Regions from separate parts of the Homo sapiens genome. Here region 2 is linked to region 1. The links come from fine-mapping of genetic effects on gene expression. A gene starts in region 1. The other region holds a variant in brackets. All regions are shown on one strand. Distances are between the middles of the regions. Region 1 holds the start of DPP10-AS3 (DPP10 antisense RNA 3). Region 2 has its middle 150 kb from the start of LINC02992.

Evidence for each region. PIP is the estimated chance that this variant, and not a neighbour inherited with it, causes the effect.
Region 2: its variant is the best candidate, but not a certain one, in a credible set for the expression of DPP10-AS3 in CD4 T cells (CEDAR, PIP 0.67).

Annotation. Positions count from the first base shown.
Region 1 is chr2:114,831,373-114,836,372 of GRCh38, reverse strand. It overlaps DPP10-AS3 (DPP10 antisense RNA 3), which reads left to right and starts at 2,825. Exons shown (of 2, transcript NR_132105.1): 1 at 2,825-3,048. All of the region lies in intron 1 of DPP10 (dipeptidyl peptidase like 10), which reads right to left.
Region 2 is chr2:114,128,521-114,134,070 of GRCh38, reverse strand. No RefSeq gene overlaps it. Among named protein-coding and RNA genes, the nearest start is that of LINC02992, 150 kb to the right of the region's middle. The variant T/C (reference allele first, on the strand shown) is at 2,711.

The DNA of each region.
Region 1 (5,000 bases):
GTACTCTGTCCCTTTATTTCCCAAACTGGCCAATGCTTAGGGAAAACAGAAAAGAACCTACATGAAATATCGAGGGTGAATTTTGCCCGATATCTGGCTGAATTTCCCCTGATAAATAACTAAAACAGAATACACATGGGTCACAAATGGAGCAGCACACATAAAGTGCTATGAAAGGCAGAGAAGGAAGAAATTATTTTTAGGTGGGAATTCAGGAAAATCTTTATTGAGAAAGGGGTATTTTAGGTGGCCTTGCATGGAATTGCCAGAGAGTTAAGGAGAAAGTTAGGGGTGGGGTGAAAGAGCACCAGGTAAGAGCAAAGAATCATATCCAATACTCTCCAATAACATCCACAGGTGACTTGTTTCATTTCTCTTCCTAGTTTAAATGTGGGAAGAGGATAAAGGGCAAAAGAAGATAAGGCTATTATTACTCACTCAATCTAAAATTTTGTCTCAATTATCTGATTTCATAGTGAAATAATTTCTACTTATATGCTGAATTGTACAGCTGAGCACTAATTATATATAGTCTTTTTTCCCTTTCTGAGAAGATTAGAAACACAATAATAAGGGTCATACTTTATTCTCTTAAAGTTCAATAACTTACTGGGCACATGACAGGTATTTGGATTTGTCTGACTGACAGTATTTTACAAATGGTTCTGGAGTTTACTATTATCCCATGCTCTTAGTGACCAGGAAACAAGATCTTGACCTCCACTGAGAACATGTCTCAATCCTGCCAAGACTGATTGGATTAAATGGATTTATGGAAAAAGTGATCAGCCTTCCACTAGAAAAGCCAGCTAGTACTGGCAGGAACTAAGCAAAGGAATAATAAAACAAACACGTATTTATTTTTGACTAATATTATTTGATTAAAAACGAACGTGATAGAAAATCGCTGTGGGTATATGTCTTATATATACATAGGTGTGTAGATATGTCTTATATATACATAGGTGTGTAAATATGGCTTATATATAAATAGGTGTGTAGATATGTCTTATATATACATAGGTGTGTAGATATGGCTTATATATACATAGGTGTGTAGATATGTCTTATATATACATAGGTGTGTAGATATGGCCTATATATATACATAGGTGTGTAGATATGTCCTATATACACATAGGTGTGTAGATATGTCCTATATATACATAGGTATGTAGATATGTCCTATATATACATAGGTGTGTAGATATGGCTTATATATACATAGGTGTGTAGATATGTCTTATATATACATAGGTGTGTAGATATGGCTTATATATACATAGGTGTGTAGATATGGCTTATATATACATAGGTGTGTAGATATGGCTGATATGTACATAGGTGTGTAGATATGTCTTTTATATACATAGGTGTGTAGATATGTCTTTTATATACATAGGTGTGTAGATATGGCTTATATATACATAGGTGTGTAGATATGGCTTATATATACATAGGTGTGTAGATATGGCTTATATATACATAGTTGTGTAGATATGTCTTTTATATACATAGGTGTGTAGACATGGCTTATATATACATAGGTGTGTAGACATGGCTTATATATACATAGGTGTGTAGACATGGCTTATATATACATAGGTGCGTAGACATGGCTTATATATACATAGGTGCGTAGACATGGCTTATATATACATAGGTGTGTAGATATGTCTTATATATACATAGGTGTGTAGATATGGCCTATATATATACATAGGTGTGTAGATATGGCTTATATATACATAGGTGCTTAGATATGGCTTATATATACATAGGTGCGTAGATATGGCTTATATATACATAGGTGCGTAGATATGGCTTATATATACATAGGTGCGTAGATATGTCTTATATATACATAGGTGCGTAGATATGGCTTATATATACATAGGTGTGTAGATATGGCTGATATGTACATAGGTGTGTAGATATGGCTTATATATACATAGGTGTGTAGATATGGCTTATATATACATAGGTGTGTAGATATGTCTTTTATATACATAGGTGTGTAGACATGTCTTTTATATACATAGGTGTGTAGACATGGCTTATATATACATAGGTGTGTAGACATGGCTTATATATACATAGGTGTGTAGATATGTCTTATATATACATAGGTGTGTAGATATGGCCTATATATATACATAGGTGTGTAGATATGGCTTATATATACATAGGTGTGTAGATATGGCTTATATATACATAGGTGCGTAGATATGGCTTATATATACATAGGTGCGTAGATATGGCTTATATATACATAGGTGCGTAGATATGGCTTATATATACATAGGTGTGTAGATATGGCTTATATATACATAGGTGTGTGTATATGTTTATATACGTATACATGTACATATACACCTATATATCTCTTAGCAACAGTTCTGCAAAACTCAATCATTATACTTTGGCAGATTGGTTTTAGGTCACTAGTAAGGGCAGAAGCACCACCATGTGTCATCCAAATTCTTGCCTGTGCCTTCCGTAGGACAAAAAGAGGGTTTATGATTTTGACCATATCAATTCTTGTCTTTCTGTTGCCCTGACTATAGGTATAGTTTATTGTATTCTTATCACGTGCCAGGCTTTGGGCTAAACGTGTTCTATGCAGCATCTTTATGTCATCCTGACAGTAGCACAATGACGTATGTAATAGTGGTCACATTGGCTGATGTGAAAACTGAGGCTTAGAGGCATCAGCTGGCAGTATTAAGAGGCAGACTTGGAGGTGCCTGACTCTGAAGAACACACTGCAATCAAAATTCAGTGCCCAAAATTATGATGTCACAGAATATTCCCTGTTAGCACTATACGTTCCACCTGTATGTTTGGAAGAGAAAGAACTATGCTCACTCCTTCTGAGCTGTCCCTATTTATTTATTTATTTTTGGTCTGATGGCTAAATAAAGATTTTTTGTATTCAAGAGAAATAATTTAATGAGATAAAATATTATTTCCTAAGAAAAATATATCAGCTGAAACCTGGGAAACATCTAGATAATTTAATTGAAAATGATTGACATTCTCAAACAAGTGAGTACATTTTTTTGCTTGATCAATTTAGTTTTTTTTTTTAAAGAATTAACTCATATTGGCTGTATAATCACAACTCTTACATCATAAATTATTTCTTCCACAGAATTGAAATCTAGTTTCTTTCAAGGGACTTCATATTATGCAGCCAATGTGATATTATTACAAAATATATGAAAATTATGCCAAATGAAAATGCCATAGATAAATACAGTTAAATGAGTAGAATGCCAAGATTTTAATCCACAAGTCTAAAAAAATTTCTTTTTTAGTTTCACAACTTTGAATTTGTGAATTTTAGCTATTTTAATCAGAATCAGAATATCGTATTTCTCAAAATTATAAATCACTGCTTGTCTCTGTATACACACAGATGCATGCATACATATTTAGTTACATTTTTTGAAATGGCAATTATTCTTATTCAAAGCATAAGCATTTAAAGTACTTAAATTTTTTTTTTTAGAAAATAGAAACATGTTAGGTAGACTTGACTCATGTCCCCATTTTTGGCATGAGGTCTATAGACATAGCATTGCAGAACTCCTTTATATTACTATCTGTTTATCCCTTCATCTATTCAGAAATGCATTCAAATATAACTTTGATTTCAAATATTTGTTTGGGCTATTAGATATCTCTGTAAATAGGAAAAATAATATTTGCCCATTTACTCTAAGTTACATTTGAAGGCTCTTACTATTTTATGGAATATTTTACAGCAATCCAAAATGGTCATACTAAGTTAAAGGTAATTTGTTTATTTATTCATTTATTTATTTATTTATTTTGAGACGGAGTCTCGCTCTGTCGCCAGGCTGGAGTGGAGTGGTGCGATCTCGGCTCACTGCAACCTCGAACTCTTGGATTCAAGCATTTCTCCTGCCTCAGCCTCCTGAGTAGCTGGGACTACAGGAACCCACCAACACGCCCGGCTAATTTTTTTGTAGTTTTTAGTAGAGGCGGTGTTTCACCGTGTTAGCCAGGATGGTCTCGATCTCCTGACCTCCTGATCCACCTGCCTCGGCCTCCAAAAGTGCTGGGATTACAGGCGTGAGCCACCACCCCCGGCCAGGGCCAGATCACACTTGTTTTTAATCTCAACAAGATCTAAGAAAACTATAGTCTATTTAAGAACATACTTTTATGTGATTTAATTTTAATTTTGAAATAAAAAGTTATTTCAAGATATTTTATGAAGAGCATTGAGTATTTCATAACTTAGGACTAAGGTAGTGTTGGAAGGTGAAAACACGTGGAAAATAATTAGTCAAAAACAAATTTAAGCAAAGATGTCACTCATTTAAATGTGTGCAAACATTGTTCTTAATTAAAATATTGGGAAGATAGGAATATATTAAGCACATATTTAAAAAAAGAGAGAGAAGAGAGGTTTGGACAGAGAGCATCAACCTCTTACTTTTTGCCTTGGTTATATATATACATATATATTATATATATATATATTTTTTTTAATTAAAGAGAGAGAAAGAGAAGAGCAAACCTTATATAGACACATAACCAGTCTTTTTTAGTCTTTCTTTTGATAAACCATTTGAAGTATGAATGTGGTACTGTATTTCAGTTAAATTGTACTCTGCAACTTAATCTCCAATTGCATTAAATAGAATTTTGATCTCTTCTTTTGATGAGGTTAAGATTTTGCAAACTACGTGCAGAATATCTGTTTATATGTTATGTCTTTATTGCTCGTGCTTTCTGCAAACCCAGCTTTCCCAAATGATCTTCCATGCTGAAACACCTCAGACTGAGTTTTGGCTAGGGACACTCAATGCCTGTAATTAAAACTGGGATCACTCTTCTTTGCCATAAAAGACAAACCTGCTTCCCGAAAATTGGATCACAGTTATTTGCTTTCCAAAGCCTACATTTCTGAGTTGGTCCTAAGTTATGAAACACCCAAGGCTAATTTTCAGTTTGGGGGTTCTGTT
Region 2 (5,550 bases), 700 kb after region 1:
ATGTTGTGTTTCTTGATGGAATACAAAATATACTTCAAGGCTATTGCTGCTCTGGATAATCTCAATTTCAAACCCAGTGGAAATGAGCAAGAAAGAAGCAAGGGCTTTGTAAACCCCAAACAATTCAGATTGCCCCAAGAGCTTAAATTTTAAACCATAAATAGCCAAATAATACATTTTCTTTTTAACCACATCTGGAAATCTCCACAAGCTGACAAACATGAAATTAACTATAACTTTATTTTTCATAGCGTCATTTACATTGTGAGCAAATATTAGAAAAATAAGGATGAATGCTAAATTAAAATGCTCTTCTCCATATACTATTATTCTATAAGATGAAATCACAAACATCCCTTCTTCTGTAAAATGAGAGGGAACATGTTCCTGGTGGAAAGTGTTTAGGCTTTGGAATAAAAGACTGTTAAACAGAACTCATTTCAGATTTTAACTTTGGTTCTGACCCTCGGAAAATCACTTAACCTCTTTGTCCGGATTTCCTCACCTACAAAATGGGGTTGTAATTCTTATCTTGTAGGGTTATTATGAAGACCCCAATAGTCCAAGTATGGTGTCAGCCCCAGCTATACCCTGTATCTCTTCGCTTCCTTTCTCTGTCCAGACTGGTTGTGAACTGACCTAAGCCCATGTGTAAGTTGTTTGTTAAACACAGGGAGCCTCCAGTGATTAGCAATAGATCTGCTCCTGCAGATGTATTGCCACCAGATGCTTTGCTATAATTTTTATAAGTTTCAGATAGAATTCTGCCACTCGTACAAATACGGCAAACACAAGATCAGTCCCACCACTTGTTTTGATAAGTCTAAGGTGCCCCAGCTTCTCTCCTAACACAAACCATCAAGCCCCTGGAATGAAAAGTGAAACTCCCAGGCCAGCTCAACAATGCTCCGAAAGCAGTATCTGCTAGTCCTTTTGTCAGATCAGGTAACAGATTTAGGGGAGGAAGAGGGCACAAGACCAAGCTGAATCCAGACCTGAAACACCATGGCACAGGTATGCAAAGGGATAAGACCTAAATTTGCAGTTCCTACTACAACCACTACCACTACCAAGATTTGTAAGACCCTAACCTAAGTGTTTCTTGCTAAACCCAAAATCACAAAATGCGCTCTCCCGGACTCCCTTAAATGCCCAATTTTCTTGCTAACCTTGAACCCACAGAGTGTAATTTCCCAAATTTTCTTATTTGTAGACAATCAACTTCTAAGAACTGAGAATTTACCTTGCCCCATACATCACATTCTTGTTGTCTTCTTTTTTTTTTTTCCTGATTAACTTTTGAGCCTATAATGTATAAAGCCTCTGCTACCTGCCTGAAAACAGGGCAGTTTCCCTTTCAGACACCCCCTGCTATCAGGGAGTAAAGCCTTGCTTTTTTTCCTTCCATTTAGGTGGTCTTTTAATTCAGGACTCTGACAAGAGATGTGTTACAGGGTTTGGCTGATTCTTTTTTTTTTTTTTTTTTTTTTAAGTTCTGGGATACATGTGTAGAATGCACAGGTTTTTTACATAGGTATACACGTGCCATTGTGGTTTGCTGCACCTATCAACCCATCATCTAGGTTTTAAGCCCCACATGCATTAGGTATTTGTCCTAATGCTCTCCCTTTCCTTATCCCCCACACCCAACGGGCCCCGGTGTACGATGTTCCCCTCCCTGTGTCCATGTGTTCTCATTGTTCAACTCCCACTTATGAGTGAGAACATGTGGTGTTTGGTTTTCTGTTCCTGTGTTAGTTTGCTGAGAATGATGGTTTCCAGCTTCATCCGTGTCCCTGCGAAAGACATGAACTCATCCTTTTTTGTGGCTGCATAGTATTCCATGGTGTATATGTGCCACATTTTCTTTATCCAGTCTATCACTGATGTGCGTTTGGGTTGGTTCCAAGTCTTTGCAATAAACATACGTGTGCATATGTCTTTACAGTACAATGATTTATAATGCTTTGGATATATACCCAGTAATGGGATTGCTGGGTCAAATGGTATTTCTGGTTCTAGATCCTTGAGGAATTGCCACACTGTCTTCCACAATTGTTGAACTAATTTACACTCCTACCAACAGTGTAAAAGCGTTCCTATTTCTCCACATTCTCTCCAGTATCTGTTGTTTCCTGACTTTTTAATAATCGCCATTCTGATTGGCGTGAGATAGTATCTCATTGTGGTTTTGGTTTGCATTTCTCTAATGACCAGTGATGATGAGCTTTTTTTCATATGTTTGTTGGCTGCATAAATGTCTTCTTGGGTTTGGCTGATTCTTATAGTTACTGTCTAATCTCATTCCTGGAACACAAATCATTTCCCCAGTGAAAAATTACTTCTGGCCCTCCCCAGGCAAATGAAACTCTCTGGGGAAGGTAGAAAAACAATATTTTGAAGCATGTGCAGGAGTCAACTTTGGAGAGTGAGTTTCCAATAAGATTTCTTCAGGTGTTAACTAACAGCATAGATGGCACACTGTTCATACTCTATACTTCAAAGTATGTATCAAATAATATAACAGCATTGTCAAGCTTTTCTAACCATATCTCATTTTGTGACTTCGATTTTTTTATAATTTGTCTGACGCATAGAAGTGTAGCATGGCAAAGAATAGGAGATCGTATGTACTCATACAGACAAGTTTGAATAAAAGCAGTAGATGTTTTTAAAAAGAAAAATAATAGCACAAGCCAACTAAATCTAT[T/C]AGGTGTATTCTCACTTCAGTAAAAAGGACAAAGGGATTAGTGTCTTTATGAAAAAGCAAAAACAGAAAGAAAAAAAAAAGAAAAGACTACAGAGTCCCACATTCTGGGACACTCCAGGAGGAAAACACAGCCCCTGCCCTCAGGGAGTGCCCAGACCAGTGTTGATGGAATCCCAGGTGATGCTTTGGTCAGCGCGACAGCCATCTTTGTAATATCACTAACATGTGGTCATCCAGTTGTGACTGAATATATTATAGGGACTGGAACCTTCTCTGGTACCCATTTCCTCAAGGACAAGTTAATGGATCAGCAAATTTAGAGTTTTGAGTGTTTTTAAAAACATTAATATCTAGTACATACATAAAATATTACCTTTGCTGGAGAGTGTACTTGCATTTTTAGAGTGGATTTTTGTCTTTAGACCAAGCCATCATAATTGTAATGTCAGAGACAGTGGCAGACCAATCAGAAGGCTATTTCTTGATTGGGGTAGAAAAGAGACCTTTCTGTGCCCTTCCAATCAGACACCATAATTGGTTGTCTTTCCCATATAAAGGATTGGTCCTGCTCCCAAAAGATGAGTAATTGTGAAGAATAAAACACTTTTCTTATAAGAAGTCACAAAAATAACCATCTCTGCTATCACATCATTTCCCTTCCTTCATTCCACTATAATTTATGAAAATGATTTAAAACTTTGGACCTCAGTGAATACTGCGAAATCCGGTCTGCAATTAGTTTTGTATGTTTAAGATCTCCCTCATCAGAGCAAATCATAATTCTTTGGAAGTAAAGCCCTGAAAAAGATATGAATTTGCAAGTTTTCATTTTTAGAGAAATTGACTTATAAGAGAAACGGCCTTTAATATGATTTTCTAAGTAGAAAACTCCCTAAAATAAACTTTGGGGAAATTGGCACAAATTCACGTTCTCAACACTTATGGTCCACTTGTATTACTGTGAGGTGCCAGGGACTGTGCTGGACGCTTTCACACGCTTTAGGCCATCAGTCCTCGGGTACCAACTTGGTGTAATCTAATCTGCAACGTTGAGAATAAAGCAAAGTTCAGGTCTGTGAGATAATTCTTAAGAAGTGACTTCAAGTCATGATCTTTCTACCATTCTTGCTTATACCTCTTTTTGTCTAGCACGATGCTTGCCATTTGATGGTAACAGCTGATGCTTACGGAACTGAGCAAACACCATCTTCTCCAGCCCTTCAGAAGGTCGATTGGAAGCCAGTATGTGCCCTCCCACAACATTCTGTCTTGGTGATGGATGATATGGGAGATGATTAAACATTCTCAAACTTGGAGTCTTTAATACATTAGTAGCAATCTCTTTAAATAAATCACATGTAAGCAATAAATTAAGGATGTCATTCAAAAATCACAAAGGAAGTCAAAATCTATTTATGGAACTCATCAGAGCTGTGATTTATTCTTGTTATCAGAAATGTAATACTAGATTGTATTTCAAACCTGCTTCTTGAATAACTATTTTGTTTTGTTTTGATGATAGCTGTGTCTTAATGAACATAACAACATTTGGTGAGAAAACAGCTAAATCTGCTTGCAGTACATAGATTTTATGCTGTATTGCCATATTGTCTTCCACAGTCACATCTATAAGGCCAAATAAAAATAAAAAAAAAACAGCTTGGGAGACAAAAGACCACCAACGATTTCCTGAGTTAGTGTAATAGACTATGGGCATATTCCTTGGTTTACAGACCAAATTGAATAACATCTAAATAAGATTATTTGCTTTCATAGAAAAAAATACTGTTTTTCTGCCCAGAATTTCAAGCTGTTTTAATAAAAGAGATTTAGAAAGCCCCAGATTAGCAGTGACTTCTGATATCTTTTAGAGAGTTGTAGTTAAAAAAATAGAATTTCTGCTCACCTAGAACAGAAAAGCAGACACAGGTAAGTTATTTTGTAAACTCTCCCAATGTCCTGTCAGTACAGTGCCTTTGAGAAGATTTCTCTGGGCAGTCTTAGAGTGGCATTTCCTTATTTCTCATTATTTGCTTTATTTGTTTTTCTACATATGTTTTTGAGAGGCTACTGTGTTTCAGGTGCTGAGAACACCACAGAGACTCAAATCAGATGAGGTCCCCTCCCATCAGGGAATTTACATTTTAGTGAGAGAGAGAATCATAAGCAAATATCACAGTCCAACATGTCAAACTGCCTCAAAGGTGAGGTATGGCAGACCCATCACTGGGGAATGGATCTAAACAAGGAGGCAAGGAGGCACCTTGAGAGGAAGTGGTCATTTACTCTGGAAGTGTAGAAACCGAATATGTGATGAGTGATCCAGGCAGAAGTAATTACAGTTGCGGATTCTCTGTCTCTGGAAGGAGCGTGGTGACCACAAGGGACAAAAGGAGGATAAGCTCGTAGCTGAGACACAACTCAGGAGGAAGAACATGGTGCAAATGAGGTGGAAAGGGGACAAGAACCTGGCTCAGCAGGACTTGAACATGAGCTTAAGAGTTTTGTCTGTATCTCACAATGGGAAGCCATGAAAGGGTTTCACGCAGAGAGGTGTTATGATCAGCCTGGGTTTTTTAAAGATGAGTGCAAGGAGGAGAACAGATTGGAAGGGGGCCAAAGCGTCTGTTAGCAGATCAGTGGAGGGCTCACACTCCAAGCAGAAGATGACAATGGCTTAGACTAGGGGGTGGCAATAGTGGGGAGATAGAAGATTTGAGAGAATTTCTCCTATTCTATTTTTGTTTTTGGCCCAACCTGCACCCTCTATTCTAAATAGCTGCTCTTTTATCTACATTGATTTTCTTGCCTGCTTACTGCTCCCATCTGCAGTACCAGCT